Linked DNA regions of Homo sapiens: all the other regions are linked to region 3. The links come from fine-mapping of genetic effects on gene expression. A gene starts in region 3. Each other region holds a variant in brackets. All regions are shown on one strand. Distances are from middle to middle.

Region 1 (6,099 bases), 26 kb before region 3:
TGGCTCCTTCAGCATGTGGGGGTCTCTTTGCACATATGGTCCTTTCACAGAACTTCCCTTAACCCGAATATATATCTTAATACAACAGAAACGGCATGAGTTGGGCTGGGTGCTATTCTATTCCTTTACATGCGTTAATTTATGTAATTCTCTCCAGAAGGGGAGCTGTGATTATACCAGTTTTATAGATGGGGAGACTAAAGTACTAACGTTCCAAATGTAAAAATTAGCTGGGCATGGTGGTGGGCGCCTGTAATCCCAGCTGCTTGGGAGGCTGAGGTGGGAGAATCACTTGAACCTGGGAGGTGGAGGTTGCAGTGAGTCGAGGTTGTGCCACTGCACTCCAGAGCAAGATTCTGTCTCAAAACAAACAAACAAACCAAAATGAAACCATATGAATATCACAAGAACACATGGGCAAATTTTGTTTATGTTCTTAGAGTGGGGCAGGCCTTTTTAGGCATGTCATAAAACCAAAAAGCCATAAAAGAAAAAAGCTAATAAATATGAACATGTAAAAATTAAAAATTTAAATTTAGTTTAATTTTTATTTTTATTTAAATATTAAAAGTTTTTTTGAGATGGAGTCTCACTCTGTTGCTCAGGCTGGAGTGCAGTGGCACAATCTCAGCTCACTGGAATCTCCGCCTCCCGGGTTCAAGCGATTCTCCTGCCTCAGCCTCCCAAGTAGTTGGGATTACAGGCGTCCACCACCACATCCGGCTAATTTTTGTATTTTTAGTAGAGGCAGGGTTTCACCATCTTGGTCAGGCTGGTCTCGAACTCCTGACCTCAGGTGATCCACCTGCCTCAGCCCCACAAAGTGTTGGGATTACAGGTGTGAGCCACCGCCCCCAGCCAAAAATTTTTGATTTAAAAATAATTTTAAAAATAGAGATGGGGTTTTGCCATGTTGCTCAGGCTGGTCTCAAACTCCTGGATTGAAGCAATCCACCCACCTAAGCCTTTCAAAGTGCTGGGATCTCAGGTGTGAGCCACTGTGCCCAGCCTTCACTGGTCTTTTCAGAATTTTTTTTTTTTTACATAAAGCTGAACACAATGGTTCCCACCTGTGATCTCAGCACTTTGGGTGCCTCAGGTAGGTGGATCACTTGAGCCCAGGAGTTTGAGACCAGCCTGAGCAACACAGTAAGATCTCATCTCTATTATCAACAACAACAACAACAACAACAAAAGACCAGTGAAAAACCTGGAGAAAAACAGTTTCAATACATGATGTGGGGCTGGTTTTTGAAATATTTAAATACTTAAATATTTAATATTAGAGACCAAGTATCCAGTAGAAATATGAACAGGGATGTGACTCATTGTTTGCAGAAAGAAAACTACAAATGGCTGTTTCAACAGACAAAAAGTTCTCAAGCCTACTCATAAATAAACATTGCCAATTCAAACAACAGTGAGATCCCACAGGGCCAGAGGAAGTGACTCCGAGCCCAGAACTTCCTCAGTGAATTCTTTGAAACCCTGATGAAAGAAAAAATACCAGTCTTACACAAACTTCCAGAGAACAGAAAAGAGGAAAGGTTGCTCAACGTCTTTGAAGAAGCTAGCATAACCTTGAAAGCAAAACCTGGCCAAAAAAATGTCAAGAAGGAAAAGTCTAGGGCTATTTGATTCATGAACAGAGATGCATAGCCCTTAAAACATGAAGAAACCAGGGCTTGAAAGGAAAAAATATGCGTCACCACCAATTTAGGTTTGTTCCAGGAATGCAAGATTGGCTGAACATTAGAAAATGAAGCCTCACACCTGTAATTCCAGCACTTTAGGAGGCTGAAGCCTATGGATCGCTTGAGCCCAGAAGTTCGAGACCAGCCGAGCCAACATGGTAAAACCCTGTCTCTATCAGAAAATGCAAAAATTAGCTGGGCATGGTGGCATGCGCCTGTAGTCCCAGCTACTCGGGAGGCTGAGGTTGGGGGATCACTTGAGCCTGGGAGGTGGAAAGCTATAGTGAGCCATGATCACACCACTGCCCCCGAGCCTGGATGACAGGGCCTGACCCTGTCACAAAACAAAAAGAAAAGAAAAAAGAAAATCAAGCAACACAATTCACCACACTCACAGAATAAAGAAGAAAAGTCACTCACCATCTCAGTAGATGCAGAAAAGCATTTGATAAAATTTGCCAACATTCAGTTACAATAAAAACTCTCAGCAACTAGGAATGAAAGGAAACTTCCTTAATCTGATAAATCGTGGCTACAAAAACCTACAGTAAATGTCATGCTTAAAGGTACAACATAAAAAGCCTCCCTTTTGAGATTGAAACCAAGCTAAGAATTATTTCATTATTTCCTTCCAGTATTACAGGGGAAGTTTTAGCCAATGTAATAAGGTGAGAAAAACAAAAGCCATAAAGGTTGGAAAGGAGGACATAAGACTGTCATTGACAGAGCAGGAGCATTGCCATCTTGGACAAGCACCATCATTTTAAAGTTCACCTTGATCAAAAACTGCCTAAATCCAAAGGGCATCAGCCTAATGGCTAAGGTCAGCATGACCATAAACCACAAATAACATCTCCAACCAGAAACATTCTAAAGCCCTCCCTGACCAGAGACATGCCAGCCCCGAGATAACCTCCCCTCCGGCCAGAGAGACATTAGCCCCAAGATAACCTCCCCTGGGACCAGAGACATTCCAACCCCCCCATAAACTTCTCCCCCACACAGAAACATTCCAAGCTTGTGATAAGCCCTCTAACCCTAAAAAACCAATAAATACTATTAGTATTAAAGACCAAGTATCCAGTAGAAATATGCACAGGGATGTGATTCACTGTTCACAGAAAGAAAACTACAAATGACTGTTTGTAAGAGAGAGTGCCCCTGACTGAAATCAGCCAGAAGCCCCTCTGGAGAATAAACCTGTCTTTGACTGTTGAGCCACTTTTCATGTTTCCTTCCTCTTTCTTTAACTCTTACAGTCATTATCTGTAGATACTCAAGAAACGGTTAGAAATAGGTGAATTGGGCCGGGCGCGGTGGCTCAGGCCTGTAATCCCAGCACTTTGGGAGGCCGAGACGGGTGGATCACAAGGTCAGGAGATCGAGACGATCCTGGCTAACACGGTGAAAC[T/C]CCGTCTCTACTAAAAATACAAAAAATTAGCCGGGTGCGGTGGCAGGCGCCTGTAGTCCCAGCTACTCAGGAGGCTGAGGCAGGAGAATGGTGTTAACCCAGGAGGCGGAGCTTGCAGTGAGCCGAGATCGCGCCACTGCACTCCAGCCTGGGAGACACAGCCAGACTCCGTCTCAAAAAAAATAAAAAAATAAATAAATAAATAAAAATAAAATAAAATAAAGAAATAGGTGAATTGAGCAAGGTCATTGTAATACAGAAGTTATTAAAAATAATTTTTAGACAAATAATAAAGGTAAAGGTTCTCGGTAAAAATTTTCCTGTAATAAAAAACAACCCCCAAACCATCTCTTTTCTAACAAAAAAGGCAGCTCGAAGGGCGGGGCCAGCAAGCTTTAATATGCAAATGTCGGCCTTTAAAAACTGGGTTCACCCAATATGGCAATTCCCACCATCATCTCCTTGTCACCAGGTATCCCAAGTGTCATGGCCACCTCCAGATAACATCATGTGTTCAAAACATTGCAATCTGCATTTGCATATTAAAGGACTAAAGTAAAAGGGCCAGGTTTTTCACTGGCTGGGTAAATAACACACCTGGTCAAACCAATCCCCTGGGCCTTATGCAGATCAAACACCAACTCCTCCAGCATCCCAATAAAAGCAACCACTTTTCTGACTCACATGGGGTTTCTCTTTATTCAAATCCCCCTGCTCTGTCTCTGTAAGGGGAAGCTGTTTTCTTCTTCCTTCTTTCTTGCCTATTAAACATTTTGCTCCTTAAAACCACTCCACCAGCCTGACCAACATAGTGAAACCCCGTCTGTACTAAAAATACACATATTAGCCAGGTGTGGCAGCACATGTCTGTAATCCCAGCTACTCAGGAGGCTGAGCCAAGAGAACTGCTTGAAACTGGGAGGCGGAGGTTGCAGTGAGCTGAGATGGTGCCATCGCACTCCAGCCTGGGCAACAAGAGTGAAACTCCGTCTCAAAAAAATAAAAAGCTAAAAACAAACAAAAAACCATTCCACATGTGTCGGTGTCATTAATCCTATCAGTACAAAACCAAAACCCTGGTGTTCCTCCAGTCATCAAAGCCGCATCAATTGGAATCAAGGAATATATGCAAAAATCAATGTTATTTCTACGTACCAGCCATAAACAAAAAAACCTTTTTTGAAGTAAAATCGCTTGTAGTAGTGTGAATCAAAAAGCATCTGAAACAGGTCTCAATCAACTTAAGAGTTTATTTTGCCAAGGTTAAGGACAATGCCCAGGAGGGGAAAAAAAATGGAATCACAGAAGCAGCCTATGGTCTGTGCCTTTCCCCAAAGGTGACTTTGAGGGCTTCAAAATTTAAAAAAGAAGAGTGAGGTGAGAAGATTGCTTGAGCCCAGGAGTTCAAGACCAGCCTGAGGAACATCGTGAAACCCCATCTCTACAAAAAAATACAAAAATTGGCCAGATATGGTGGTGCATGCCTGCAGTCCCTGCTACTCAGCAGGCTGAAGCACAAGGATCGATTGAGCCCAGGAGGTCCAGGCTACTGTGAGCCATGATTGCCCCACTGTACTCCACCCTGGGTGACAGAGCAAGACCCAGTGTCTCTCTCTCTCTCTCCCTCTCTCTCTCTCCTTCTTTCTCTCTCTCTCTCTATATATATAGCTCAATTCACCTATTTCTAACAGTTTCTCGAGTATCTACAGATAATGACTATAACAGTTAAAGAAAGAGGAAGGAAACATGAAAAGTGGCTCAACAGTTAAAGACAGGTTTATTCTAGAGAATAAACCTGAGAGGGGCTTCTGGCTGATTTCAGTTGGGCGCTCTTTCTTACAAACAGCCATATATATATATATATATATATAGAGAGAGAGAGAGAGAGAGAGAGAGAGAGAGAAAGAAAGCACAAAGGAGCAGGTAGGGGAAGAGTAAATTACGTATTCCTCTTGCATTACCAGAAAGAGGTCCCAATCCAGACCCCAAAGAAGGTTCTTGGATCTCCAGCAAGAAAGAATTCAGGGCAAGTCCATAGTAAGTTGATTAAGACAGTAAAGGAATAAAAGAATGGCTACTCCATAGACAGAGCAGTGTGGAGGGCAGCTGGTTGCCCATTTTTATGGTTATTTTTTATTATATGTGAAACAAGGGATAGATTATTTATGCCTCCCCTTTTTAGACCACATAGGTTAACTTCCTGACATTGCCACAGCATTTGTAAACTGTCATGGCGCCAGTGAGAGTGTAGTACTGAGGAAGACCTGAGGTCACTCTCGTTGCCATCTTGGTTTTGGTGGGTTTTAGCTGGCTTCTTTACTGCAACCTGTTTTATCAGCAAGGTCTTTATGACGTGTATCTTGTGCCGACCTCCTATCTCATCCTGTGACTAAGAATGACTTGACCTCTTGGGAATGCAGCCCAGTAGGTCTCATCCTCATTTTACCCAGCCCCTATTCAAGATGGAGTTGCTCTGGTTCACACGCCTCTGATACTTGTGCTCAGTAAATCAGTAAATCAGCACTTTACACAAGATTAGGTGAACATCGAGTGGAGATATTGAACTCAAGATAAGGTGAACATAGACTGGAGGTATTGAACCTTTTTTTTTTTTTTTTTTTTGAGACAGTCTCACTCCTTCACCCAGGCTGGAGAGCAGTGGTGCTATCTTGGCTCACTGCATCCTCTGCCTCCTGGGTTCAAGCGATTCTCCTACCTTAGCCTCCCGAGTAGCTGGGATTACAGGAACATGCCACCACTCCTGGCTAATTTTTGTATTTTCAGTAGAGATGGGGTTTCACCATATTGGCCAGGCTGGTCTCGAACCCCTGAACTCAGATATGCCCACCTCTGCCTCCCAAAGTGCCGGGATCACAGCCGTGTGCCATGCACCCAGTCAGATTTGGGCATTGTTGTTGTTGGTGGTGGTGGTGTTTTGAGACACTCTGTCACCCAGGCTGGAGTGCAGTGGCACAATTTTGGCTCACAGCAACC
Region 2 (5,470 bases), 160 kb after region 3:
AATCCTTGAAACCTAGGGTTAGACAAGCCTTCAGACAACACAAAAAAACACAACCCATAAGCAAAAAACTCAATAAACTGAACTTCCAAATTGAAAAACTCTTGCTTTACAAAAGACACTGCTACAAGAATGAAAAGGTCAGTCCTTCCACCAAAACAACCAGTAAACTAGGAAAATAATCATCAAAATCTACTGTTTCAAACTCTGGAACCTGGCCAGGCATGGTGGTTCACACCTATAATCCCAGTACTTTGGGAGGCCAACACAGGATGATTGCTTGAGCCCAGGAGTTTGAGGCCAGCCTGGGCAACAGAGTGAGACCTCGTTTCTACAAAACATAAAAAAAATTAGTCCAGGCCCAGTGGATCAAGTCTATAATCCTAGCACTTTGGGAGACAGAGATGGGTGGATCACTTGAGCTCAGGAGTTCGAGACCAGCCTGGGCAACATAGTGAAAACCTGTCTCTACAAAAAAATACAAAAAAATTAGCTGGGCGTGGAGGCACATGCCTGTTGTTCCAGCTACTAGGGGGCTGAGGTTGGGAGGCTCACTTGAGTCCAGGAGGTTGAGGCTGCAGTAAGCTGAGATTGTGCCACCGCACTCCAGCCTGGGCAACAGAGTGAAAGCCTGTCTCAAAAAAATAAATTAGCTGGGCGTGGTGGCACATACCTGTAGTCCCAGATACTTGGGAGGCTGAGTGGGAGGATAACTTCAGCCTGGGAGGTCGAGGCTACAGTAAGCTGAGATTGCACCACTGCACTTCAGCCCGGGTGACAGAGTGAGAGCCTGTCTCAAACAAAGCAAAACAAAACAAAACAAAACTTTGCAACCTGACTGAACACTTAAAACAACCAGCAGAGCGTTTGATGAGCAGAGGCTGCTGATATTTGGTAAAAGAATAACTTGACTCAGCTACCATCCCCCATTCCTCGGCCCCACCACTCACGGCTATAGGGATAGCAGCTCATGTTCCTAAAGTGGCTGGCTGGTTCCAAACCTACAAAAATGTGGGTTTGTGCACTTTGGTTGGTCTGGCAGATCCCTGTAGAACTGGTATATACTTGCCTTGGTTTTGGCCTTCTCAGGCTATCGATGTTTTCACAGGTGGCTTCTATCAGAAGATTTAAAGAGATGGAACACCTTTTCCCCCCTTTTGAATCAGACATTTAAGGAAATCGTTGTCAGGTCACTGGCTGACCAAAGAAATAATGGAACAGAATCTACAGTGCCCACAAACAACAAGGAATACATTTTGCAAAAATAGTTTGAAAAAGTCAAAAATTGATGGCTGCAGCCCTCAACAAGAAAAAGTCAGAAATCTGACTTCCAACATTATCCATACTATAATACTTAGAATGTACAATTCTAAACAAAAAAATTACAAAGAATACAAAGAAAAAAGAAAATGTGGCACATTCACAGGAAAAAGGAATTTGATAGAAACCATCCCTGAGAAACTGAATTTGATAGAAAATATTCCTGACCAGACACTGAAATTACTAGTCAAAAATATTAACTGTCCTAAATACACTGAATCAACTAAAGGAAATCAGGATAGATGAACAAAATAATAAAGGAAATAAGGAAAATAATGTAAGAACAAGATGAGATTATCACTAAAGAGACAGAAATTCTAAAAAGAAATCAAACAAAAATTCTGAAGACTAAAAATACAACTGAAAATTCAAAAACAAATGTGAGCAGGCGAAATAAATGGTCAGCGAATGTGAAGGAAAGGCAATTGAAATTATCCAGTGTGAGAAAAATAAAAAGAATAAAGAAAAATGAATAGAGACATACGGACATATGGGGGATACCATCTAGAAAACTAACGTATGTATCATATGAGTATCTGAGGGAGAAGAGAGAAAGGGGTAGAAAAATTATTCGAAGAAATAATGGCTGAAAACTCCTCAAATCCAATTAAAGACATTAACATACATATCCAAGAAGTTCAATGAACTCTAAGAAGTACACATTCAAAGACATCCACATTGAGACACATTATAGTCAACTTATTAAGACCAAAACCAAAGAGAAGATCTTGAAAGCAGCAAGAGAGAAGCAATTCTTAGGAAAAAACATATGGAAAAATCTTCATGTCCTTGGATCTGGCAATAGCCTCTTAAGCATGACACCAAAAGCACAGGAAACAAAAGGAAAAATAGATAAATTAGACTTCATCAAAATGTAAAACTTTTATGCAAAGGTAGCACATGTATACATATGTAACTAACCTGCACAATGTGCACATGTACCCTAAAACTTAAAGTATAATAAAAAAAAAACTTTTATGCAAAGGACACTATCAAAAAGTGAAAAGACAACACACACAATGGAAGAAAATATTTGTAAATCATATACCTAATAAGAGATTAATATCCAGAATATATAAAGAACTCCTACAATTCAACAACAAAAAGACAAACAAGTCAATTTAAAAATGGGTAAATGACTGGGCATGGTAGTTCACGTCTGTAATCCTAGCACTTTGGGAGGCTGAGGCAGGCAGATCACTTGAGGCCAGAAGTTCGAGACCAGCCTGGCCAACATGGTGAAACCCCATCTCTACTAAAAATAAAAAAATTAGCTGGGCATGGTGGCAGGCACCTGTAATCCAGCTACTCAGAAGGCTGAGGCATGAGAACTGCTTGGGCCCGGGAGGCAGAGTTTGCAGTGAGCCAAAATCGCACCACTGCACTCCAGCCTGGGTGACAGAGCAAGTCTCCATCTCAAAAAAAAAAAAAACAGGTAAATGACTTTCAAAAGACATTTTCTCTAAAGAAGATATAAAAACACCTGTAAGTGCATAAGATGCTTATCAGGGAATTGTAAATTAGTCATCCAGGAAATGTAAATCAAAACTACAGTGAGATACTATTTCCATCCACTAGAATGGCTATTATCAAAAAAATAAAACAGAAAGGAAATGGAAAATAACAAGTGTTGGCAAGGATGTAGAAAAACTCAAACACTCATGTACTGCTGGTAGGAATGTAAAATGGTCCAGCCCCTGTGGAAAACAGTTTAGTAGTTCCTCAAAAAGTCAGACATGGAATTGCTACATGACCCAGCAATTCCACTCAGGTTTTTACCTGAAAGAACAGGACTTGAACAGATACTTGTTCACCCATGTTCACTGCAGCATTATTCACAATAGCCAAAAGGTAGAAACAAACCAAGTGTCCACCAATAGATGGATAAACAAAATGTGGTATACAAATACAATGAAATAGTATTCAGCCACAAAAAGGAATGAAATTGTGATACATGCTCTATAACATGAATGAACCTTGAAAACACTATGTTAAGTAAAATAGGCCATATACAAAAGTACAAATATTGTTTGATATACAAGGTACCTAGAGACTGAAAGTACCACAGCCTGCAAGAAGGGAGGAATCAAGAGTTACTGCCTAATAAACACAAAGTTTCTGTTTGGTATGATAAAAATTTTTTGGAAATAGATAGTGGCACAGTTATACAATGTTGTGAATGTTCTTTATG[C/T]CACTGAATTGTTCACTTAAAATGGTTACAATGGTAAATTTTATGTTATACAAATTTTGGCACAATAAAAAAAGACCAATTAAAAAATGGGCAAAAGACTTGAACAGATACTTCACCAAAGACAAGTAAATAAATTAAAAGATGCTCAACCTCATTCATCATTAGAGAAATATGAATTAAAACCATGATGAGCTACCATATGCACCTATTAAAATAGCTGTATTTTTTTAAAAACTGATAATGCCAACACAGAGCAACTGGAAGAATCATACACTGCTGATAGGAATGGAAAATGGTTCAACCATGCTAGAAAACAGTTTCTTATAAAACTCAACATACACTAGCATATGATACATCAATCTCACTCCTAGTTATTTATCCTAGAGAAATGTTCACACAAAACTTGTATAAAAATGTTTACAGCTCCACTCAAATCACCAAAAACTGGAAACAACTCAAATATCCTTCATTAGGTGAGTAGATAAACTGTGATATATCATACAGTGGAATACTACTACTAATGTGAAGGAACAAACAATTGATATATGAAACAACTGAGGTGAATTTCAAAGGCATTATGCTAAGTGAGAAAAGCCAGTCTCAAAAGGTTGTACACTATTATATTTCTATTTACATGACATTCTTGAAATGACAAAACTATAGTGATGGAGAACACATCAGGGGCAGCCCGGGGTAAAGGAAGGTGTCTGTAAAGGGGTGCCATAAGCAATGGACTGTTCCTTATCCTGATAGTGGTAATGATGGTGGTGGTAACAAGTCTACACATGTGTCAAAAGTCACAGAACTATAACTCCAAAAAAGGTCAAATAATTTAATTAAACATAATAAGTATAAAAAAATTCTAATAAAAGGAAATACAATTTGTTAAAAAAAATAGCACAGGGATAGACATCAAAGTAGAATTCAAGCCCAAAAGTATTAAATGTAACAAAGGCACAATTCACACTGATGATATGACAGTCAAGAATATGCTGGCCGGGCACGGTGGCTCACACCTGTAATCCCAGCACTTTGGGAGGCCAAGGTGGGTAGATCACCTGAGGTCGGGGATTCGAGACCAGCCTGGCCAACATGGTGAAACCCCATCTCTACTAAAAATACAAAAAATAGCTGGGCATGGTGGCATGTGCCTATAATCCCAGCTACTTGGGAAGCTGAGGCAGGAGAATCGCTTGAACCTGGGAGGCAGAGCCACTGCACTCCAGCCTGGGGCAACAGAGTGAGGCTCTGTCTCCAAAACAAAAACAAAAACAAAAACAAAAAACAAAGAATAACCCAAAGGAGATGCAAGGACACATAAACAGTAACACCCTAAAAATTAGAGGCTTCAAACCAATCTCAAAACAAGACAGATCACGCACCAAGTATGGCAGTGTGCACCTGTAATTTCACCTACTCAGGAGGCTAAGGCCCAGAAGTTCAAGTCCAGCCTGGGCAACACAGCAAGACCCCATCTCTTGAAAAAATAATAAATAAATAATTTTTTAAAAAAGACAAATTGATCGGGCACTGTGGCTCACACCTGTAATCCCAACACTTTGGCAGGCCAAGGCAGGAAGATGGCTTGAGCCCAAGAGTTCGAGACTAGCCTGGGCAACATAGTGAGACCCTGTCTCTACAAAAATATTTTAAAATGATGGCCAGGCTTGGTGGCTCATGCCTGTAATCCCAGCACTTTGGGAGGCTGGGGTTGGAGGATCCTTTGACTCCAGGAGTCCGAGACCACCCTGGGCAAGATAGTGAGACCCCCATCTCTAAAATAAATAAATAAATAAATAAATAAAATAAAAATTAGCCAGGCATGGTGATATGCACCTGTAGTCCCAGCTACTGAGCAGACTGAAGTGGGAGGATCACTTGAACCCAGGAGTTCAAGGCTGCAGTGAGCCATGATCACACCACTGCATTCCAGCCTGGGATACACAGTGAGACCCTGTCTCA
Region 3 (6,099 bases):
CCCGCACAGCAGAAAAGGACGCTGAGGCCGCAGAGGCAGGGGCCTGCCCTCCCTCCACTGCCCACGCCTCTAGCCTCGACCTGGCTTCTCCCCTGCCCTGGCATGGCGGAGCTCAGTGGATAGGCACTGGCCCACCTCTCTAGGGACCCCTGCAGCTCCCACTCACTCTGGGCTGGGACCGCGGTCTGGATGCCAGGGAGTGGAAAGGAGCTGAAGGAACTCTCGCAGGCGGGCAGGCCTCCCAAGGGACTGGTTCAGCCAGAGAGGCAGGGCACGGACAGGCCAAGTCTCGGTGTGCATAGATTAGCGCTGGGGAAAGTCCCCGTGGGGGCAGGCTGTGGGCAGGGAGGAGGGCTCACCAGCCAGCCAGGTGCCCGCACGAGGGAAGGAGTGGCCGTTGTCCAGTGACACAGTGAAGGGGATGCGGCCGCTCTCATAGAGCAGAGGTGACACACAGTGCACTTGCCCGGAGGAGTCCACATGGCCGAGGGTCTGGATGCTGTCCTTAAACCTGTGGGCGTGGTGGTGGTGGGAGGGGCTGGGTCATTGCAGGCTGAGCCTCTCGATGGTCTGGGCCCCCAACCTCCCTGGGGAACCCAACCAGCCAGCTGTCCCTGTGCCCTCCTGCCTGTCCTGGGTCCGAGGGGCTCCACTCAGCCAGTCAGTGGGTCTGAGCCCTCAGCATGCACAGGGATGGGGGCGTGGGGCCCCAGTGCCCGGCCTCCTGGGCCTCCCAACCTGCAGATCACACTGGCGTCTGTGGGGCTGGACATCTTGAAGTGCCGCACCACAAAGTCCTTGCCGCCCATCATGGATCCTGAGTAGGGCAATATCTCCAGGCAGAAGTCCCGGAAATCCAAGCAGCAGGTGCCAAGGCCAGAGCACGTCGGGTGGCAGGAACATGGCCCGTCCAGGGCGCCACAGCGCATGGAGCAGCTCTCTTGGGCATCTGGAGGAGAGGATGCTGAGGGCCTGGCCCGGCGGGTACTGGACTGGCTGCCCCATGTGCAGGGCCTGTCTCTGTTTCTCCCACAGCCCATTAGACAGCAGCATCCCCAGGAGAACGCTGGCCAGGAACTGCACAGGCCACCAGGTGGACACAGTAGAAAGCCACAGGGCCCGTGGGGATGGGATGAATCTTAGCACAGACCATCTGGCTGTTGCCCTGACTGACGGGCTAGAATGCAGCGAGAAGAGGCAAAAAGCTGCATCCGCTCAGCCCTGCAGGGTCAGGAGAAGCCCCTGGGCATGACTGCCCTTCAGCCACCAAGTCCTCTATCCCACAGGCAGGGGTCCTCAGTGGGCCACGGTAGCTGGAGCCCTCGACCTCTCTTGGCTCCCCAGGGTGTCTGTGGTCAGCACGCCTTCTGGGGGCCCTGAAGCCTGCAGAAGAACCCCTCTTGCTTGCCTGGACTGGGGTGGGGGATATGGCTGCCAAGAGTCTCATTTGAGGCCTGGTAGGGAATGGTGCAGGGTCTGAACGTGACACTTCTCGCTCTCCCAGGGGCTGCAATTGAGACCCCAAAGAGAGCTCCGTGCTCAGGGCAGAAGGCCAGGGCCGCTCCCCTCCTTTCTGGGGAGAGGAGGGACATTTCAAGCAGGGGTCCCAGCAGTGGGGAAAGGGAAGTGGGGGTGCACACCACAAGGGGCTGTGGGCGCCGGGCCCAAAACTTCTCCTATGGGCCATAAGACCGGTGGGCAAGGCCATATTTCCAGGGGCTGGCATGAAGGAAGGGTTGCAGGGAGGGACTGGGGCAGGTGCATGCACCCAGGCTGGAATTGCACTTCCCTGGCCCTTCCCCATCCCCCATCAAAAGAGGCCAGTCGAGGGCCAGGCCTGGGCCTGAGCCACCCCGCTGGCCCCACTTCACCAAGTGCAGTGCCTGGCACTTAAAAGCAACAATAAATATGTACTGGCCAAGGATTTGGTGGCGCACAGGGGTCGGGGGAGGAGGCCGAGAGATGCTTGCAAGTGAGATAAGTGGCAAGAGGGTCGATGGGAAATGGGGTGGGGGACGGGGGGCAGCCTGGGACCAGTGTCCTGGTTCTGGAGTTCGGGGCTTTCCCTAGACTTTCCTGGATTCAGCCCCACCCTGATGAGGACCCACAATCCTGGCTCCCCCTCCGTGATCCCGCCCTGTCAGGGCTGGGGACACAGGCGGAGGCCTCTGCTGGTCTCCCCCGCCTCCCTCCTAGCTACCAGCAGGTTTAGGGTGGGCCCGGCTCAGACCTCCCATCCCCATGGGCTGCCCCTCCACATGGACCCTCAGAATTTCTTCCCATCACCCCTAGCACAGCCACAGATGGCCTGACAGATGGACAGAGGCTGAGCCCAGAGGGATGTCAGCCCAGGCCTGGCTGCAGACAGATGGACAGACAGACGGGGACACAGAAGGGCAGGGAGGCATACCTGCTGTGGGTCCGGGGCCCGGGCCGAGGGCTGTCGCCAGCAGCAGCAGGGCCCAGGGCAGGAGGGCTGGCTTCATGGTGCAGCCTGTGTCTGCAGCCAGCAGTGCAGTGGCTCCGAGGCGAGGCGGCCAGACAAGCTCACTCCCTGCTGGCCTGGCCCCGCCCGCCCTGCACTCTGCGGCACCGCCCCGCCCCGCCCCTCCCCGCCCCTCCCCACCCAGTCCCCTCTCAAAGTCCACAGGTGCCTGCGTGGACCAGCAAGGCCCAAGTTGCCCCGTTAGCACATTCCTGGCCCGCAGGCCTGGATCGGCCCTGGGACCCTGTGGGAGGGTGAGGAGGCCGGAGCCTCCAGCCACAGGACCTTTGGCAGGCGATGAGCCGGATGTCCAGAGGGCGAAGCTCAGACCCTGGGTCCCAGCCCCGCCTTGCATGCAGGGCGAGCCCGGCGGGGCTGAAGCAGAGGATGGGATGCGCAGGGTGAATAAGGCAGGGCTGTTTTAGCTCCAGGGAGGATTCCAGACTCTGTGGCCCTGACATAGACCTCCATCTCTAGCCCTCATCTTCCTGCAGGAAGGAGGTGCACCCAACTCATCCTCAGGGGGAGGCAGGAGCTGTTTGGGTCAGACACAGGCTGAGCCCTGGGGCGGAGGCAGCTCTGCAGGGGTCCCCTCTGGAGGGAGGAAGGAGGAAGGGGAGAGAAGGTACCCAAGCCCAGCGGGGGGCCCGGAAGGGAGACAGGGCCCATCCCCGGGCTCCAGAGATGCCACCACCCTGGGGAGCCTTGGCTGTCCCAGCCACACCTAATCCTGCCGCTAAGAGTTTGCATAATTTAATCAGTATTCACCTCCCTTCTTGAGCAGATGAGGAAACTGAAGCTCAGATGCGGATAGGCAAGGCCGAGCCAGGCCCTTGGTGGCTTCTGGGAGCCCCTGCAGCCAGGGCGGGTGGTAAGGGCTGCGGCCTGGGACTGGTCATTTGGACCCTGACACCTGGGCTGGACATCCAGACAGGCGGGTGGTCCTCTCCCAGCTGCAGCTTCTCAAGGTGTCCAAAAGGGACCCTTGCCACACTTGCAGGGAGTCAGAGGTGGCCCCAGGGCATGAGCTTAGGCCATCCGGTCTGTGATCTGCCCCAGCGCTTGCGGCCAGGCCAGCCCATTGTTCCCCGGCCTGTTCTCTCTCTTGCCTGGGTGGTGCCTGCTGGGAACCACAGGGTGTTGGCAGCCACCCGTGGCTCCAGAGAGGTGGCCCCTACTGAAAGTGTTAGAGGCGTGTGCTGGGGGACTTGGCTCCTGAGTCCCCACACAGAGCTGTTCCAGGGAAGCCACACCCGCATTTGATGTTTTCCCACCTCCCAAAGACATTTGGTGAGAGGCCCCCAAGACCTTCAGCTTCTCAGGGACTGTCTCCAGAGGGGAGAAAGTCCCTTAACCCACAATGGCGCTCAGGGCACCTCTGCAGGTGAGTGTCCTGTAAGTGGACGCTCAGGTGCTGAGCCAGGGAGAGCCTGTCTCCTGGCCCCAGGCTGGCGAGGGCATTCATCCCAGGCCCAGGGCTGAAGTTGCTCCCTACAGCACTGGGTGCAGGGGAGGGTCCGAGGTGTCCGTCCTCCTATAGGTGAGGCTCCAGGGAGGGGTGCTGGGGGATCGGCTGAGACAGTTCCCGGGAACTGGAGGAGGGAGAGCTGCTGCTTCCTGTTTTTGGCCTGGGCACCGTTGCTGCGCGTGTCTGGAGACAATGGAAGTGCGGTAGGGGCTAGGTGTGCAGTCTGGGAAGCTCCATACCCCAGGCCCTGCAGGGAGGGGGCGTCAGCTGAGTAACTGGGGCTGGCTTATCTCAGCCCCCCGAAAGGCGGGTTCAGCCAGACCCATCTGGGGCCACCAAGCCTCTGGTTCCAAAAGGGCGGTGCCCAGCCCTTTACGCCTTTCCTCCTGGGTGGTGGGCATGTCCAGCCCATGAGGGGCACAGGGCAGTGAGGAGGGTCCCCATCTCCATCCTGGACAGAGAGCCTGCTCCATGGGAGGTCCCAGGGCCAGGAGGGCCCCTGCGGTGCTGGGAGGGGAAGAGAGTTGTGAAGGGTGCCAGCTCTAGGGGCTTAATGCTCTGTGGGGCCTGCCTTAAAATCCTTAATCATTTTTGGTCAGACATGGTGGTGGCTCAGGCCTGTAATCCCAGCACTTTGGGAGGCCAAGGTGGGTGGATCACTTGAGGTCAGGAGTTTGAAACCAGCCTGGCCAACATGGTGAAACTCCGTCTATACTAAAAATACAAAAATTAGCTGGGCGTGTTGGCGTGTGCCTGTGATCTCAGCTACTCGGGAGGCTGAGGCAAGAGAATCGCTTGAATCCAGAAGGCGGGGGTTGCAGTGAGCTGAGATCGTGCCACTGCAGATCGTGCCACTGCATTCCAGCCTGGGAGACAGAGTGAGACTCCATATCAAAAAAAAAAAAAAAAAAAAAAAAAAATCCTTAATCCTTTTTGATCAAGGAGCTTCATATTTATGTCTTGCACTGAGCCCAGCTATTCTGTGACTGGCCCCATTAGGGCGACTGTGATGGGAGTTAAGTACCCTCCCTGCCGGCCCCATCCCCCCTTTCCCTCCCTGACAGCCCCCTCCTCCCAGCCTCTCAGCTGCCCCAGCCCTGCCTGCCCTCCCACCGTACAGCCTCCCACCCACTGGCACCCAGGTGCGTTCTGGGGATGCACCTAACTCCCCTTTGAAGCCTGGCTCCAGCTGCACTAGAGGCGTCTGCCTGGCCCAGCCCCGAGTCGGCTCTCTCCTTACCCCACTGGGCACCCCCAGCCGCTGCTTTGGTTGCCTGGCTGGTCCCTGAGATGCTGGAGAAGGAGGGGGGCTAGGCCCTGCCCTATGGACTATGGCAGTAAAGGCCCAGAATCCCTGGGGACAGCAACTCTCCGCCAGAGACTCTGCCAGATTGCCCCCTAGAGGTGAGCAAAGAGGCAAAGACAACTGTTCCATCTTTATTAGAAAAGCAACCAAAAAAAGGGTGAGGGGTGAGCCTGGCCCTAAAGGACCCCTCCACTGTGACACAGGCAGAGCCGGCTCATCCCGGCGTCGAGGGGTGGATATGGCCAGCTGGGTGTGGGCAGATTTACAAAGTCAACACTTCATAGAAAAGGATGCCGCCTGGCGTGCAGATGGCGACCAATCCACCTTCACATGGCTAAGGCGGGCCCCTCCTCCTCTGGGCTCCCATGTGGTGTGGACAGCCTGACCTGGGTACAGGGAGGATGCCATGAGGAGGTGGGCTGGGCAGGCCTGGGGGCTGTGTGGGGAGTGGCATCCATGTGGGCCTCTGGTCCTGCCCAGGGTCCTGCCCAGGGGGCATTCCAGGCCTGGCTGGTCCCCTGGGGCGTGGCGGTGGGGCTGCAGTGGCCCCTCAAATGTCCATGTAGTCGTCGTCCTCGTCTGTCTCGCTCTCCAGCGAGGACTCCTGGCTGGATGTCTCCAGGACCTCCAGGGCTGGCTGGCATAGGCTCTCCTTCCTCACGTTGGCAGCAGACTGGGCAGAAAGGATGGCTGACTGCGGAGAGGGCCGGGCGGGGCACTGGTCAAGGATGGCTGGGCTCTGCCCCAAGCCCCTCTGCCACCTTCACCCCTGCCCCAGGCCCCCCTCCCACCCTCACCCCTGCCCCAGGCCCCTATGCCATCCTCACCCACACCCCAGGC
Region 4 (6,099 bases), 69 kb before region 3:
TTCTCATGCCCGCATCCATGCTTGCAGCTGGGAAGGGGGCAGGAATCAGCGAGGTGACCTGGGCTGAGTCCTGGGAATCAGAAGAGGTGGCAGGAAGGGGATCTGAGGAGGAGAACAGGGGGCCTGGTGGTCTGTGCTTCTTCCCAGACATGGGAGCTGTAGAGGGGACCCCTGCAGCAGATGCTAAGGGGTCCAGTAGGCCCAGGCAGTCTTGGGACTTGTGTGTCTCCTGCTGTGCATCCATACTGGGTGCTTTAGAAACGGCAGGCAGACCAGAAGCCCCTGTTGCAAGTGAGGACAAAGTGTGGGAAGGCCGTGAGGGTCTGCAGTCCGAGATGGCCTTGTCCTCAACCTGCAGTGCACTGTTGATGCGCTGGAAGGCCGCCTCCTTCTCCCGGTCCAGGTCTTCAACAGTGACCCGGTACCCCAGCTCTAAGGGAGGTGGCAGCATCAAAGGCTCCCCTCGCCTGCGTGGCAGCAGGGGAAACTTGTGTGTACTGGGCCTAGAGGCCTCGGATGTGGAGGAGTCATTCCTGAGGGTGAGTGTCTGCCCTGGTGCTATATCTGCTGCCTTTTCACACTGGGTGTGACCTGAAGAGACAGCCTGAGGCCTGTCCTCACTCACTGTCTTTGAGGAACTGAGGGTCAGCTGGCAGTGGGATGAGGCTGGCCCCCTCCTCCGCTTTAGCCCCGGCAAGCCTCCCGTGGAGCTGTAGGAGCTGGAGATGGCATTTCGGTTGGTGCAGGAGCTCGTCCAGGAGGTCTGGGATGTCGGGTTATATCTGATTTCTGACCTCTGGGCATGGAGGTCTGTCTGCAGAGGCCCGGGCCCGGGCACAAAGGGAGAGAGGCCTCCATTGTCCCGCAGGGGCCGAAATGCAGACGGTGCATCCCCGGTGACCTCGGGGACCCTTCTCTGATCACCAGGATTCTCTTGGACTCTAGGGTCCTTGTCCTGCTCAGGCATCCCTGCCCCGCTCTCCTTGAGGGCCCTCAACACTATCTTCCCTGGACACAAGTCTGGGGACAGCCGGGTGTTGTGGACCCCAAAGGGGTGACTCCCGGCTCCTGGGCCCCACAGAGAGTCCATGTTCTCAGTGCAGTGGCTGAGCTGGAGGACGCCCTGGAACTCGGAGCACACAGCACTGGCTTGCTGTGGTACCTGTGCAATCAAATTGAAGGCAGGATCCCAGGAAGGAACGCAGGGCTTGCAGGATCACGGAAAACCTTCTTAGAGTTGTCTTGACACCACTGATGTCAAGTGTCCGGGTGCTTGTAGGATGGCCTGCCACTCAGTCCACGGGCAGGAGCAACGGGGAGATCCCACAGGCAAAGTGAACTGGGGGATGGGCTGAACGGGCTCCAGGCAACTGAGCCCTACTGGCAGGTCCTCGGCCTGGGCCCGAACAGGAAGGAGGGGCACAGAGTGCCCAGGTAACCGCTCCTGGGAGCAGTGGGGAACCGTCGGTTGCTTGAACTCTCGAGAGCTGGGCTCTGAGCGTCCTCGTCCAGCCGCCAACTCCGCCAAAGGCTAAGCCAGCAGTTTCTTCTGTTGCCGGGCAACGCGCCTTTTAAACCTGAGGGAGTGGGCGCGTGAGCACATCACGGCGCCCGTGACAGAGCGAGCTTAACGGATTAATAAGCGCAGCCAGGTACCCGCGCGAGGCACTTGCTGGCAATGGCGGGAGGCGGACGTGGGGGGTCATGCAATAGGTACTGGAAGGAGAGAGGCGGGCACAAAGGTTGCGGGAGGAACAGGTGCCCACAATGGTGGCAGATCTGCCCGTGGATCACTGAAGATTCCTGCTCTCCTGCTGAGGTGGAGATTGCAGTGAGCTGAGATCGCACCATTGCACTCCAGCCTGGGCAACAAGTGCAAAACTCAGTCTCCAGATAAAAAAAAGAAAAAGAAAAAAAAGAGGCCGGGCGTGGTGGCTTATGCCTATAATCCTAGCACTTTGGGAGGTCGGGGCAGACGGATCACGAGATCAGGAGTTGGAGACCAGCCTGGCCAACATAGTGAAACCCCGTCTCTAGTAAAAATACAAATTTAGTCAGACATGGTGGCACGCGCCTGTAGTCCCAGCTGCTCCGGCGGCTGAGACAGGAGAATCACTTGAACCCGGGGGCGGGCGGGGAAGGGATTGTGATGCGCCGAGATCGCGCCACTGCACTCCAGCCTGGGCAACAGAGCCAGACTCTCTCTCTTTTTTTTTTTTTTTTTTTGAGATGGAGTCTCCCTCTATCGCCCAGGCTGGATTCCAGTGGCCTGATCTCAGCTCACCGCAAGCTCCGCCTACCGGGTTCACGCCATTCTCCTGCCTCAGCCTCTGGAGTAGTTGGGACTGCAGGCGCCCGCCACCACACCCGGCTAATGTTTTGTATTTTTAGTAGAGACGGGGTTTCACCGTGTTAGCCAGGATGATCTCCATCTCCTGACGTCGTGATCCCCCTCCCAAAGTGCTGGGATTACAGGCGTGAGCCACCGCGCCCGGTGTTGAAACTCCCTTGAGGCATTTTCTTCGGCCTTCGGGTCCATCCTCTGTCTCCTCCTTGACCTCCTCATCTCCTCCTCGCCACTGCCTTGGGGACCTTGGCCAGGCTCATGGCATCCAGCAGCCACTCAATGTCAATACCTCCATGTTCATCTCTCAGCCCGCCCTTGCCCGTGAACCCATGCTTATTTATTTATTTTTTTATACGTGCACCCATGCTCTTCAGGTCTGATGAAGTATCCAGAATCAAGCTCCTGACCATCCCCAAACCTGCCCTTTCTGCAGGGTTTACCTCGCTAGTCGGCACCATCCTTGATTCTTCTCTTTCTCCCACCCAGGCCATCATCTCTTGCCTGGTTGATACCCACAGCCTCCCCTTTGGGCTTTATCCTTATCCCCGTCATAGCTGCCAGAGGGACCCTGTGAAAACACTCCCCAGCCTGCTCATTCCTCTGCCCTAAGCCTGCATGGCACAGAGCAAAAGCCAGTTGTTATGGGACCTAGGAGGTCTTGTGGGATGGGCCCCAGCCTGCATCTTCATCCTCTTCTCCCCACCCCACTCCATTCACTCTTTGCCTATCGCTCACCAGCCTATACCACCTGCCTCAGGGCCTTTGCACTGACCATTTAGGC[C/A]ACATTCCAGGCTCTTTTCACACGTTGCCTCCTCTGAGAAGCCCTCCCTGACCACTCTGCCCATACCTCATGCCTCTTGATTCCCCTTACCTGGCTTGTGGTTTCAGCACTTTCCCTGTGTGTGTTTGTTTTTCTTGGCATGAGGGCAGGACCTAAGTGTCTGTTCCCTGTTGATTCCCCAGTGCCAGGCATGCAGTGCAAACTCTAGAAATATTTTTTGCATGAAGGAATGAGTGATTGAATGCAGCAAGGGTCTGGAGGCTGAGGACCAGGCAGACAGACATTCAGAGTTGCTGGAACGCGACAGAGACAGGGAGTCAGACTGGTCTTGCAAGATCCTGGGCCTGCCCTTGGGTCCTGGGGAGCCACGGAAGGTTGTGGGTGCCAGAGGGTTGTGATCAGAGCCACAGTCAGGGGCCTTTTGAGACCTGTGCCCCCTCCCCACCCTCCCTCCCCACCTCCTCAGGCCAGCTCTGGGGTCTCGGCAGGTGGTCCGCAACATGACCTCTGAGTTCTTCGCTGCCCAGCTCCGGGCCCAGATCTCTGACGACACCACTCACCCGATCTCCTACTACAAGCCCGAGTTCTACACGCCAGTTGATGGGGGCACTGCTCACCTGTCTGTCGTCGCAGAAGACGGCAGTGCTGTGTCCACCACCAGCACCATCAACCTCTAGTAGGGGCTGCTGGGCCGCCTGGGTGGGAAAGGGCCAGGGGCGGGTGGCCCAGGGACTGCCCACTTATCCAGTAAGGTGGCTCCGTCACCTCTTTTCCTGGTGGGAAACTGAGGCCCAACCTTGGTAGCTTATCCTGGGCCTCTCAGTGAGTATGTTTGAGCCTCAGTGGGTGGATAGGGACCAGGCTGGGCCAGGCAAGGTCGGGCACTGTCTGACCTGGCTGGGCGGTAGCTTTGGCTCCAAGGTCCGCTCCCCGGTCAGCGGGATCCTGTTCAATGATGAAATGGACGACTTCAGCTCTCCCAACATCACCAACGAGTTTGGGGTGCCCCCTCACCTGCCAATTTCATCCAGCCAGGTATGGGGTGGAGGTCCGGGGGTGGGGGACTGGGGTGGAGAGGGGCGGGTGTCCTGGGCAGGCAGCTGACGGGCATCCCTGTCTTCTCCCATCGGCCATAGGGAAGCAGCCGCTCTCGTCCATGTGCCCGACGATCATGGTGGGCCAGGACGGCCAGGTCCGGATGGTTGTGGGAGCTGCTGGGGGCACACAGATCACCACAGCCACTGCACTGATATGTGTCACAGCTTTTCTCCCTGGCCGTGCCCACCCTGCACAGCCCCCAAGCCACGCTGATCACACTCCCATGCCCCAGGCCATCATCTACAACCTCTGGTTCGGCTATGACGTGAAGCGGGCCGTGGAGGAGCCCCGGCTGCACAACCAGCTTCTGCCCAACGTCACGACAGTGGAGAGAAACATTGACCAGGTGGGCCGGGGGTTGGAGAAACTGAGTCACGGTGTGGGGCCCCAGGGCATCCTGGGCTGGAGGCCTGGATCATCACAGAGTGGACAATGGTTGGTGTCCTCTCTCTAGTGCCTGGGCCATCTGGAGCCCCTGTGACATGAAGGCCAAACCCCCTGCTCCAGTGAGACCCAGCAGGCCCCAACCTGCTCTTCCTGATGACCTGGCCCGAAATGGCACCACCTGGGCTGAGGCCTGTGACCACACAGATGTGGTTCAGGTGGCATCTGGAGCCTTGCTCAGGCTTCCCCTCTCCTCCCACCCCCAGGCAGTGACTGCAGCCCTGGAGACCCGGCACCATCACACCCAGATCGCATCCACTTTCATCGCTGTGGTGCAAGCCATCGTCCACACGGCTGGTGGCTGGGCAGCTGCCTCGGACTCCAGGAAAGGCGGGGAGCCTGCTGGCTACTGAGTGCTCCAGGCGGACAAGGCTGACAAGCAATCTAGGGACAAGATACTCACTAGGACCAGGAAGGGGACTCTGGGGGACCGGCTTCCCCTGTGAGCAGCAGAGCAGCACAATAAATGAGGCACTGGAGAGGCGGGATTCGGAGATCTTCACGCTGCGGTCGCTGGAACTAGCCTCAGCATCTTCAGCATGGGGAAAGCCAGGCACGTGGCTGGGGGCCAGGGGAAGGTCCATGCCAAGCCCTGCCCCTTCCCACCCTGATCCCTCAGACTTGGGGCCAGGCCCTCCCTTCCCTGGGCTGGGCAGCAACACCACCTAGGACCAGCCACCAGAGGGTGCAGCGACCCCGGCCCTTTCTTAGGCAGAGAGTGGCCAGCTGATGCCGGGAACCCGGGTGCCTTCTCAGACCCGTAGGCGTCCAGCTCACCCTGCCGAGGACATGGGAGGTGAAGCTGAGGTCTGAGGAGTGGGGATTGGGCAAGAGGCTGGAGGAAAACATCTCAGTCAGAGCCAAGCCCCTGGGGGGTTTCCAAGTTTAAGCCCAGAGTGAAACCCAAGCTTGTGATCCTCTCCAGAGGGAGGCCTGGTTCTCAGGGAACAGCAAACTGGAAGAGGTCCCCAGATCCCAGGGATCAGGGCTTGGACCAGCCGGGGATGCAGCCCAGAGGGAGTGGGTTTGGAAGGGAACAACTAGACACAGCAGCCTTCACCATCAGCAGCCCCTCCAGGCCTCCCTCGGGGCCTGCTCCCTCCTCCAGGCACAGTTCCAACACCTGGGGCAGGATTCTGGGAAAGGCTGGTGGAGATAGGCTGGTGAGGGGTGGTGGTCACAGCCCAGCACCAGGGGCACTCTGGATATCACCAGGGGCACTCTGGCCAGGGCCCAGGTGAGGCCAGGTCGGGGCTATCCTTCAGGAGCCCCGAAAACCTGGTGATACCAAAGGGCCCACAAACAGGGTTTTGTGCCTGCAGAGTAGAGTACCACCGGTTCTGAGCCCTGGAGGGCTGTGTCTCTGGGGCTCCCAGTTGAGTGATGTACGAGTCACTCCTCAATCCTTATTTTATTTATTTAATTTAAA
Region 5 (6,099 bases), 86 kb after region 3:
TCCACCTCACATTGAAACAGATGTGTACTGGTAAGGGTGAATGCCCTTCCCAGGGCCCACTGCTCCCATGCACCTCTGGTGGCCCCCACCCCATCTGCCTGGTGTCACAGAGCCCATAGTTGCCCCTACAGCACCCACACAGGCTCTGGCTCCTAACTGGACACTGCCTAATCTTTCTGGCAGGGCGCGACCTGCATCTCTGAATTTCAGGCCCCAAGAGGCTCTATAGAGGAGCCAAAGAGTCTTTCTTCAGAAGCACCCTTGCATCTCTCCATGCAAAGTCTATGCCTTCTGTGTGACAGCCTGACAAACTTAAGACCTGACAAATGGGCAGACAGAAACACATCTGCATTTACTGCATGCTCACACATGTACAAGGATATGTGCTGCAACATAGTTGAGCAGAAACATTAGAAACACTCTAAATGTCCATTGGAGTGGTTACATAAAACATGGTACATCCATACTATGGTATAGTAAGTAGCCACTAGAAAGAATGAAGTGACTGGGGTACTATCTCCATGGACTGTTGCCCAGACCCACTGTCAGGGGAAAAAGCAAACTCTAAAACAATACCTTCTGTAGTTCATTTTTATAAAATAAATGAAACCTTACAATTGTATGTGTGCATTTAAGTGTTATAAATATACAGAAAATGATTTAGGAAATTAAACTGTGAATAGTAGCTAACTCTTGGAAGGAGATCTGTCACATTTTAGTCTACATGTTTATATACTACCTGAATGTTCTATAACAAGAAAGTATTCATGTATTATTTGTATAATTAAAAAAAATTTAACAGAATTATAACCAATGAAAGAAAGTATCATTGTATGTTGGGGGCCCTTTGTGACTAAAAAAATGGGTAGCTATAAATTCTGAGCACAGCGGCTGCCCACCTGAGTGGCCTGCCATGCATGGACGTGAACCTCCCCATAACCTGAGGGGCACACCGACTGTGGAGCTGGCTCACCTGTGGTGAACATCACACAGGCTATCTGTGGTCAGAAGCAGACAGCCCTCAAGCACAGGGCCTGGGTGCAGGCCTCTCTGGCACTCAGCTGAACCCCGCACAGTGCCCAGTCAGGCAGGGGTCAGCTGAATTTCGCACAGTGCCCAGCTAGGCAGCGGACTCAGAGATGGGGTGAGCTGAGCCCTCCCCTGGCTCCCATGTGGGCAAGCTGGCAGGTGGTGACCCTGAGCATGTCTCAGAAGCACAAGAATCAGCATGAGTCCATCAGGTTAATGGGCAGCTGCAACATTCCCCATGTCACCCCAAACCCATCTTTCTCCCTAGGACTTGCCCCTGAGGATGGGGCGGCACCAGGACCTGGGCCTGGAGTGAAAGAAGTCTGGGCTGTGGAGATGACTTACAACCACAGGGAGACTGGGGTCAGTCCAGGCCCACTGAGAGGACCACACCTGAGCCCCAGTCTCTCCGAGCTCTCTGGCACCACATGAGAAGCCCACACTTCCCACACTTCCCACTGCTTCTCAGGAGAATGGGCAGCAGACAAGGCCTTGGCAAAGGACCCAGGGGTGAGAGTCTGCAAAGCAAAAACTGACTTTCTACAGTGTTCTGCACAGAACAGAGCTGTGCCCCAGTGGAGAGGGCAGGAGGGCATCAGCTTCTCCCCAGGACTTCCCCTTAGGGTGGGGTAGCACCACACATGACCACAGGGTAAGGGGACTCACACTCACCCTCTCCTTCTCAGACTCAACAGAAATACCTTGGCCCAGCAAATGGGAGTTTCCAGATGGGTCCTAGGGACTCCATGAGTTCTAGTTTACTGTTTACTGTGTAGCAACCCTCTGAACAACACATTGCAGTAAACGAGCCATCTGGGATGCAGATGGGGTAAGCTGCTAGGGGTCGCCTGAAGGGTGCTACTCACTTTTCTGAAGCTTTGGGTGTGTTCTTCTCCTCGCCCCTGGCAAAGGGTCCTTCTGCAGCCTCCTTCATAAAGTTGACCAGGACCTCTGCACCAACCCCAGAATCGGGCTTCCCCAGGAGCTTCAGGATGGAAGCATGGAGCCGAAAGTACACCTAGGAGAACGACACCTCTAGTGTGAGCAGCCTTCCCAGTTGCTAAGATTTGTTCCACAGGCCAGTCAGCCACACTGGAAATGGGCCCATGACCAGGGCAACAGGCTGCCACACACTGCTTGTTTTTGTTAGCTTTTAAACCAACCATCCTACAACTAATTTAAAACAAGCTGTGAAAATTAAAATGTATACTGTCAGCATTCCAGCTTAAACGTTCACGCAGTAACTCAGGCACATGGTAGTGAGATGAGAGTAATAACCACTCATTATGATAACCCTTCAGCTCCGTTCACTGGGCACTGCCTCCCGCCACAGTGCTGCTGTTCTCTTTGTGCCCTTCAGTGGGCACCCATAGAAAGTGAGTTTCTACATCTGTCTCCCCACTGAACTCTGGACTCCCTGAAACAAGGACTAGGTTGGATTTCTGTTTATAGCCCAGCCCCCAGGCAAAGCCAGGCACCCACAGGCCTCGAAAACGTCTTCCCCGTGGGTGTGGTGGGGGGGTGGGTGGGCAGGCAGCTCATTGCATCCATTGGGCCCTGTGCTTTCCTCCATTTCCTCAAGTCCTTACCACATTCCTCAATTTAAAATGGGTGAAGAGCTGCCCAAGGCCCCACAGCCGGGAATGCCCAGGGCCAGGTTAAAACCAGGTCTGCCCTGATCTTCTCATGCAGGAGTGGGTGTGAGGCAGGCTCCCACTTGGAGGGCACAGTGGGTGGTATGAGGGCTGAGAACTGCCATTGCAGGCCCTGGCTAAGTGGCCCCCCTCACCCAGGTGAGAACCTGCTGGCAGCACTCTCAAGGAGGCATCCCAGACAGAGGGGTCTCACATCCAGAGCCCCTCCACCTCTAGCCCACCTATGGAGCCCAGAGAAATTGGCCCAGCAACTCCATTTTTAGATGTAGGAAACCACTCGAGGCACCCATGCACAATCAGGTGGCCAAACTTGGGGGAGGGCAAAGCATTCAACTGGTAAAGTTCATCCAAGTGGCGAGTAAAGATTCTTGAATGAAGGCACAATAGCAGAGGAGAATTTTTGTCAGGACAGAGTTAAAAATCTTCAGAGAAATGTCATTTTTGTTTCTTT[T/C]TTTTTTTTTTTTTTTTTTGAGACGGAGTCTCGCTCTGTCGCCCAGGCCGGACTGCGGACTGCAGTGGCGCAATCTCGGCTCACTGCAAGCTCCGCTTCCCGGGTTCACGCCATTCTCCTGCCTCAGCCTCCCGAGTAGCTGGGACTACAGGCGCCCGCCACCGCGCCCGGCTAATTTTTTGTATTTTTAGTAGAGACGGGGTTTCACCTTGTTAGCCAGGATGGTCTCGATCTCCTGACCTCATGATCCACCCGCCTCGGCCTCCCAAAGTGCTGGAATTACAGGCGTGAGCCACCGCGCCCGGCCAGAAATGTCATTTTTAACACAAGATATACATATTTACCAGCTGACTCAAAGTTACATAGCTACAATGGTTGCATGGAATGGGTTGCCCCCCAAATTAACTATGTGTGCTTGCTCTCCTTGGAGCCAGCACTGTGTGCTGGGAGAGGGTAGGCCACACATCTAAGGCCTTGGTTCCTCATATGGAAGCTGCTGGTACCCCTGGGGCTACCATCCTGCCTGCTCATCTGCTCTATCAGGCAGTAGTAGAGGCCAAATCTTGAAGAAAAAAACATGGAGGAAAAACAGAGTTGACATCATCTTCCTGAGGGCCACACGTAGGTTCAGTGGCTTCCCAGAGGTGCCATATGAGAATGCTGGGCTCAGTGGGCATCTGGCCCAGCTCCTCTCTGTTCCTGCAGGTGACTTAAGGCAAGTCATCACATCACTCCTCTGGGCCTTACCCTTCTCACCCCCAAAGTGGAGTTCTTCCAAGGCACCTGCCCCCAGGTGGACAGTATGAGCACTATGACAGGGAAGGACGGAGATCCAACGCCGCGAATGAGCGCAGCCAAGCTGCTGCTCCTGAGATAGCGTTCAACAGGAAGCTGTGTTTCCACACTTCTCCATGAGCCCAGTGAATATGGCCCCAAAACAGGCAAATTTAATTTTTTTTTTTTTAGACAAGGTCTCACTCTGTCTCCCAGGCTGTGAGTGCAGTGGTGTGATCACAGCTCACTACAGCCTCGACCTCCTGGGCTCAAGCAATCCTCCCACCTCGGCCTCCCAAGTTTCTGAGACTACAGGTGCGTGCCACCAGGCCTTGTTAATCTTTTATTTTTTGTAGAGATGGGGGGGTCTCATCATGTTGCCCGCTAGTCTCTGAGATCCCCAGCTCTATATCTCAAACTCCTGGACTCAAGCAATCCTCCCAAAGCAGTGGGATTATAGGTGTGAGCCACCATGCCTGGCCCAAACATTTTTTTTTAAATGAGTTTTTTTTTTCCTTTCTTTTTTGAGACAGGGTCTCACTCTGTCACCCAGGCTGGAGTGCAGTGGCACAATCTCAGTTCACTGCAACCTCCACCTCCCAGGCTCAAGTGATCCTCCCATCTCAGCCTCCCAAGTAGTTGGGACTACTGGCCTCCACCACCACACCTGGCTAATTTTTAGTAGAGATAAGGTTTCACCATATTGGTCAGGCTGATCTCGAACTCCTGACCTCAGGTGATCCACCCACCTCGGCCTCCCAAAGTGCTGGGATTACAGGCGTGAGCCACCATACCTAGCCAAAATGAGACATTTTTGTTTGCTCACAAAATTAGCAAATATTAAAAAGAGAACCTCATCAATATGGCTGAGGGAAAGCAAACACTCTCATCAGTCAGTACGACCTTGGGGCAAGTAGCCATTGTTGATCAGAATGCTAAACAACCTGGCAATTCCACCTTTGGACTCTAGTCCTTGGAAATACTCATGATGTGCTCCCTGCTTCAAGTACAAAGACATGCACTGCCTGTGCCTTGTCATAGCAAGAAGTGGAGAGGAAACCAAACCTATCAAGGGTCCGTGCAGATAAACAAACGCCCTGCTAAACTACAGGGCACTAGGGCAGGCAGGGAAGCTCACCACACCTTCCATTAAATTTTGTCCAGCGAAAAGACAAGCTGCAAAATCATAAGAAAATGTTACTATATGTTTATATGTTAATAGGAAAAAATTCGGACATACAGGGACATAGCAAACTCTTAGGGATTATGGAGGGGCATACTGGAATCACTAGGGGCCTTCACATTCACACTGTACACTTCTGAGTTGTTTGAATCTCTTTAAAACACACACACACACACACACACACACACACACACACACTTTTATAATCAGGAAAAAAAATCACAAAGGCAGAAAAAAGCAAGCAGCAGATTCTGTCCACACTCCAAGAGGCTTGCTGGGCACGTGAGACTGGTAGAGACTGGGCACATAGCCTCAGAAAGGGCAAAGCCAACGTGCACAGGGCCTTCAGAAGCTTCAAGTCCTGGGCTGAACCAAATGGTGGACATCTGGATCTCTACCAATGTCCTTGGTTTTCCTGCCTACAAAATTGACAATCGTGGCTGCCCAGCCTGCCTCACAAGACTGCTATAAGCAACAGTGACAGCATTCATCAGAAACACTCTGGAAACCATGAGAGAAAATCCAGGGAGTAAAGAACTGCTCTTTTCTTGAACAACAATCAGAAGACTCCAAACTGGGGGTCAAGAGAGCAGGCTGCTCACCCTAGCTCAGCCCCTGCCAACCTGGGTAGCCTGGGCACAGGCTGGGCTTTGGATGTCTCATTTGCACCCTGGAGGCAATGGTGCCTGCCCTCCCTCCTGCCAGGCTACAGGGTGTGAATGTCCTGGGCCTGGGAGATGCTATGTAGCACTGACTGTCATCACCAAGGTCAGGTTCTTAGAACCTGTGTTAGTGAGGAAAGACAATTTTCTTCTGAGAGATAAGAACAAAATGGTCACTCTCCCAGAAAGGATGATAAACACCCCTTGGGAAAAGAGAGGAAATGATGTTTTAATTCAATTGCACATGAAGCTGCTCAACACAGATAAGTTTGCGGCAGGTTGAAGGACGGTCACTGGAACCTTGAGCCACATGCCCAGGGAGATAAAGAAACCAGCCTGCCCCTG

Direction of the effects. Alleles are on the strand shown, and positions count from the first base shown. SD is a standard deviation of normalised expression in the study named. Not every link is listed here.
In carriers of allele T in region 1, the expression in sun-exposed skin of the gene that starts at base 2,519 in region 3 tends to be lower than with C alone (small effect, 0.35 SD a copy in GTEx).

The links. PIP is the estimated chance that this variant, and not a neighbour inherited with it, causes the effect.
Region 1: its variant is fine-mapped to the expression of SUSD2 in sun-exposed skin (GTEx, PIP 0.91).
Region 2: its variant is fine-mapped to the expression of SUSD2 in whole blood (INTERVAL, PIP 0.95). The same link has a PIP of 0.9 or more in cerebellar hemisphere.
Region 4: its variant is fine-mapped to the expression of SUSD2 in tibial nerve (GTEx, PIP above 0.99).
Region 5: its variant is fine-mapped to the expression of SUSD2 in whole blood (TOPMed, PIP above 0.99). The same link has a PIP of 0.9 or more in blood mononuclear cells.

What each region holds. Positions count from the first base shown.
Region 1 is chr22:24,203,515-24,209,613 of GRCh38, reverse strand. No RefSeq gene overlaps it. Among named protein-coding and RNA genes, the nearest start is that of SUSD2, 25 kb to the right of the region's middle. RefSeq lists an enhancer at 3,356-4,324. The variant T/C (reference allele first, on the strand shown) is at 3,106.
Region 2 is chr22:24,021,017-24,026,486 of GRCh38, reverse strand. The region is part of intron 1 of CABIN1 (calcineurin binding protein 1); the gene reads right to left. Among named protein-coding and RNA genes, the nearest start is that of CABIN1, 12 kb to the right of the region's middle. The variant C/T (reference allele first, on the strand shown) is at 3,509.
Region 3 is chr22:24,177,907-24,184,005 of GRCh38, reverse strand. SUSD2 (sushi domain containing 2) reads right to left here and starts at 2,519. Exons shown (of 15, transcript NM_019601.4): 1 at 2,411-2,519; 2 at 739-949; 3 at 360-511. The coding sequence starts at 2,486. It overlaps CABIN1 (calcineurin binding protein 1), which reads right to left. Exons shown (of 37, transcript NM_012295.4): 37 at 5,378-5,953. The coding sequence ends at 5,810. RefSeq lists enhancers at 290-399, 470-549.
Region 4 is chr22:24,246,996-24,253,094 of GRCh38, reverse strand. It overlaps the pseudogene GGTLC4P and the pseudogene POM121L9P. Among named protein-coding and RNA genes, the nearest start is that of GGT5, 5.0 kb to the right of the region's middle. RefSeq lists enhancers at 1,014-1,514, 4,322-5,310 and silencers at 5,410-5,479, 5,220-5,514. The variant C/A (reference allele first, on the strand shown) is at 3,129.
Region 5 is chr22:24,091,879-24,097,977 of GRCh38, reverse strand. CABIN1 (calcineurin binding protein 1) reads right to left here. Exons shown (of 37, transcript NM_012295.4): 25 at 1,896-2,047. Among named protein-coding and RNA genes, the nearest start is that of CABIN1, 84 kb to the right of the region's middle. RefSeq lists an enhancer at 5,702-6,099. The variant T/C (reference allele first, on the strand shown) is at 3,136.